2 separate regions of the Homo sapiens genome follow, and region 2 is linked to region 1. Evidence: fine-mapped expression QTL. A gene starts in region 1. The other region holds a variant in brackets. All regions are shown on one strand. Distances are from middle to middle.

What was found. PIP is the estimated chance that this variant, and not a neighbour inherited with it, causes the effect.
Region 2: its variant is fine-mapped to the expression of DTNBP1 in whole blood (TOPMed, PIP 0.94).

What each region holds. Positions count from the first base shown.
Region 1 is chr6:15,661,665-15,664,164 of GRCh38, reverse strand. It overlaps DTNBP1 (dystrobrevin binding protein 1), which reads left to right and starts at 1,137. Exons shown (of 10, transcript NM_032122.5): 1 at 1,137-1,351. The coding sequence starts at 1,296. RefSeq lists a silencer at 1,141-1,650 and an enhancer at 1,881-1,930.
Region 2 is chr6:15,583,214-15,585,713 of GRCh38, reverse strand. All of the region lies in intron 7 of DTNBP1 (dystrobrevin binding protein 1), which reads left to right. Among named protein-coding and RNA genes, the nearest start is that of DTNBP1-AS1, 38 kb to the right of the region's middle. RefSeq lists a silencer at 2,230-2,430. The variant A/G (reference allele first, on the strand shown) is at 1,032.

The DNA.
Region 1 (2,500 bases):
AGTGAAGATATAGAAAGAGAAGGAGGTTCCAGAAATACTTCAGGAGTAGAGTTGATTGGATTTGATGGGTTAATATGGGGAATGAGGAAAAGAGGGGAACCAGAGGTGATTTCAAGTGTCTTACCTTGAGCAAATTGGTGGATGGTGGTGTCATTTACTGAAACGGAAAATACAGGATGAGCAGATTAAAGGTGAACATGCAATGAATGAAATTTTCAATTTTGTGTATGTTGGTCTGAGATGCCTTTTGGATACATGTTGTATACATGCTTACATGAGTAAGCAACTGGTATGAATTGACGGAGAGGGAGGAAGGACAGGGCAGAAGATAGAGCTGTGGGAGTCATCGGTTCCTTGACAGAATTTACAGCGTGGTAATGGATAGACTCTATGCTATCCATCTATGGAACAACACATCTGGAGAAGAGAGAAGAGCTGGGGAGGCTGGACTGTAGCCTTGGGAGTGGCTATTAAAATAGGAGAAGGGGTGGAGCGGAAGGGAGAGAGGAACTATGGAGTGCTTAGCAAGAGAAGAAAGTGTTTTAAGGATGGGGATGATAAACTGCATTGAAAGCCACTGAGAGGTGGAGAAAAAATCAGGGCAGAGAAGTAATAAAAGGCATCAGCAACATGGAAGTCACTGGTGACTCGCGAAAGGCGATCACCTTTGGTGTGTAGGGCACAAAAGCCTGGGGGGGTAAAGAGAGAGTGGAAAGTAAGAATGTCGAGACAGTCGACTATTATTGCCATTTTATGAATGAAGAAACCGAGGCTCAATATTTGACTGTCTCATTCAAGGTGAAAGCCAGTGGGGTCAGATCCTGGACCTAGAATCCATGCAATGATTTGTGCACATCGCCTATTGAAGAGAGAGATCCAATTCTCTTCCAAAACGTAAAAGCCAACACTTCCCTCAAAGGAGGCTTCGAGTTAAATCATCCTTTCACGATGCCGCTTCCATTTTAAAGAAAAAAAAAAAAAAACGAGAAGGCCTGGTGCGGGATAGGAATGAGCCGAGGAGCTACTGGCCCTCTCGGTCGGGGGAAGACCCGCCCCTTTTCCGCAGCCCGAGCCCGGCGCAGTCCACTGCGGCTGCGCGAGCCTGGCGCGCGCGGGGCGGGAACGCGGAAGGGGCTGGGGTTGCGGCGCGGCGGCGAGGACCAGACCGGGGGCGGGGCCGGTAGTGGGAGTGCGGGGCGCGCGGTGACAGCGCGGGGTTGGCGGCGTGGGACCCAGGGGGCGACAGAGGCAGCAGCAGCCCGAGGCCTGAGGAGAGGAGACCGGCGGCGGCGGCAATGCTGGAGACCCTTCGCGAGCGGCTGCTGAGCGTGCAGCAGGATTTCACCTCCGGGTGGGTATACGGTGGGCGACGAAAAGGGACCTGAGGGGGCCGGGCCGCCGCCTGGGATGCCCCTGCCTCGCTCCCTTCCCCGCGCCACGGTCCAGGGTCCGTCCTGTCCCGCACCTCCCCGCCCCGCCCCGCCGAGGAAAGTAACGAACTTCCCGGCGTCCTCGCGTCGGGCGGCGCAAAGTAACTTAGGTCCCTGCGGGCCGCCTGTGACGCGCACCCCCCAGGACCGGGAGGCGCTCGGCGGCGCAGCGGAGCGCCCGGGGGGGGTGTGGGACCCTGCGGTCCTTTCCCGGCAGCATCAGCTGGGCCCTGGAGGGAAGTCATGTGAGAAGCCAGCGCGCCTCACCGCTTCCGCCCCCGCGGCACAGTGGCCTGCGCCCCTCGGCCCAGCAGACACCTGCTCGTGCGCACCTGGAGCTGGGCCAGCCACCCTCCCCGAGTCGGATCGCACCGCGCAGCAGCCTGCACCCTCCGGCCACAGCCTTCCGCGCCGCGTCTCGGCTTTCACGCCCGGCTCGCCGGCCTAACCCTTGGCAAGGCTGGCCGCCCCTCCCCGTTGCGTCCTTTCTCTACCTTTGCCGTGAGCTCAGCGCCTCGGCGAAGGAACTCCTAAGCAGGAGAAGCGACAGAACTTTAGGAATGCTTTTAATACCCAGCGGTTCCCAAACTTTGCTTAGAATCACCTGGGAACCTTTCAGAGTTCTGATGCCCAGGTCTCACCCCCTACCTGTTGACCAGAGTGCCTGGAGACGGCGTTTTAAAGATCCCCAGGGGATTCCAGTGGGCACCAACGCCTGGGAACCACAGGCCGAGACTCTGGCGCCAGATTGCCTAGGCATCCTGGCTCGACCACTAAATCAAACGTAGTTACTCAGCTGCCTTGCCTCAATGTACTGTTTCCGCTACCGTAAAATGGGGATAATGATGGTACTTAAAAGGTTATTACAAGGATTAATGAATTAATGTGTAAAACACGAAGCAAGCATCATGTCAGTATTGTTACTTAGTGCTTAATTTTAATTTTTTCATTCCTTTAAAGTGAAAAAGATCTGTCTTTGAAAAGGATCTTTCAACTTTAGCTTACAAATCCTGTTGGAGGATGCACTGAATGTGAGAACATTTCCACTCATACTGTTTTAAATTTCTCCC
Region 2 (2,500 bases), 78 kb after region 1:
TGGAACTTTATTTTCTGTTTTTCCTTTGCTGCTTTCCTTTGAAATGTTTATTTCCATGCCTGGATACATTGCTGTATTTGCATGGTATGCAGATGATATATTATTAAAAAGCAGAAATTAAATTTCAACTTGACTTGAACCTACAAGTAGTACATTTTTATGAGAGCATTATTAGTTCTTTCTATTACCAACAAGTAATAATTACTAAATTAATACCTAAAATAAGTTTAAAATGTTGCATGGAAATGTAGGACTTTTTTTTTTTTTTACAATATGTGTCTTTTCATGCATCAGGTGAAATTAATCAAACTGACATTTTTTATGAAGCAATATTTGTATTAAAAGATAAATATAAAATACCAGGAAAATAATACTAGCTATTTGAATAATGAGGCTGGTACAGCTCCATAAAACTAATTCGGCATCCCTTGCTGCTAGTATGTTCATTTTCCAAGAGGCAGTTAATAGAGTTAAATATGTGAGCCATATCCAAAGATAGTATAAAGTTAAAATTCATTCTATGGTACTATATGGATTTATCTAAAATGGCTGATTTTCAATATGGATTTTGAAAAATGTCATAATGCTTCATACAGGTTGAATATATATATATATATATATATATATATATATATATATATATATATATTCTTTTCATAATTTCATATAACTTCAGTGTATTCCTTATCTGTTAGCCAGAGGCTGTGGTTTTAATGACATCTCTGTGTGGTATTTATATATATATATAAATACATATATAAGGATATTGAAGTTGTGGAACTTACTGCAAAAAATACCTGAAAAATTAACTGTGCATTTTTTGTTGAGTAATTTATTGTACTATCCATGGGGGTGGTAACTGAGGAATAATTTTTAATAGTGATTGCATTTTTTAAAACTCCCTGTTATTTCTTTTAGTTGGCATACGTTATGGCATGTTATATACATCATGCCTTGTCAGGTAGAAGCCACTTCTCTGTAAATGAAAAAAAAAAAAAAAAAAAAAAAGAAATACATGTTGTCTCTCATCT[A/G]TCAAGGTTATTCTCTTTTTAATATTACAAATTTGAATAAGGTATATCAAACTTAAGAGAAAAGTTCCTTCTTTGTGTCCCTCTCTCACGCCTGTGTATGTATAACATAGCAAAACCTTTCAAGCTTAGATAGACATATTAACAGAAGTAAAATGATAGCTCAGGAATTCATTATAAAATTGGAGCATTAATGGAATCAAATTCTAACTAGAGGTTTTACCACATTCTTATTCATTATTAAGTGTTCAGGAAAAAACTTATCAGTGAGAACTTTGGCATTTATTTTTAAAGTATTTACTTATAGGGAATGTATGATAAATGACATATTTTCTCTTCTCTCAGTCATTATCTTAAATAATGGTTCTAAGAGTAAAGATCTGCATATAGGTATAATCTGATATTCAATTTTAATATTTTAGATCATTCATCTAAGAAATTGCTCCTTGAAAATCATGATTTGTTGGTAAATACTGGCAAGATTTTTGAGGTGTCTGCTCATCTTTTTCTCATATGTCAATATATGTTAAGTGTATATTCGTTTTTTTAAAAGCTGGCTTATATTTATGTAACAGTGTTTAAATAAAGTTAGTATCTATATCCTGTAATACCAAAATATTTATATCCTGTTTGTTAATTTTGGCTCTAAGACAGTTTATTTCTAAGACGGAGTTGATTGTTTATTCTAATACCATGTCTTAAGTTGTCATACTGGGCATGACCTGAAATTCTCTAAGACGATGTTCTATATTGAAGGGGAATTGGCACTTTAACAGCTTGTTTAGGTATTAAACTACATAAAAATAGAGCATCAAGATTAGGGTTGTGATGCTTAAATGTTACTTTTCTGGGATTTCTTGTAATGATCATATACCACCATTGTATGATCAATAATTATAGCAATAGAGTATTTTAGAAGTGAATCAGGACAACGTTTTGTTGTCTATCATAAATGTTTGGTATCATGAATAAATACAGCTATTCTGTTTCATTACCTTTTTGCTGGAACATGGTATAACTTGACAGCAAAAATTATACCTTTCAGAAAACTAAATTTTAAAACCACAAAAAGAAATCTTTGAAAATTTTAGCTGTCAGCCTTAACAAGAGACTTTGTCTGTTGAATTCATATGGAGCTTCATGATTTTGTCTTAGCTTTTTAGAGGTGTGTGCTGGAAAATAACCTGTGGGATCTTGTAGCTCTGCTGATTAAACTGTTGAAGGCAACTGGGATGGAGTTTGTACTTTTCTCAGAAGATTGGTAGTTGCCTAATGGTTTTTATAAACTTCTAGAGTAGGGGAGAAGTCAAGTGGCCAACTGAGCTGAGAAACTCTCACTCCTACTTAAATATTCATCTGGCTTTCCCTGTAAAGGTATGCCTATAGCATAAATATAAGTATATGGGTGGGAGCAGTGGCTCACACCTGTAATCCCAGCACTTTGGAAGGCCGAGGCAGGAGGATCGCTTGAG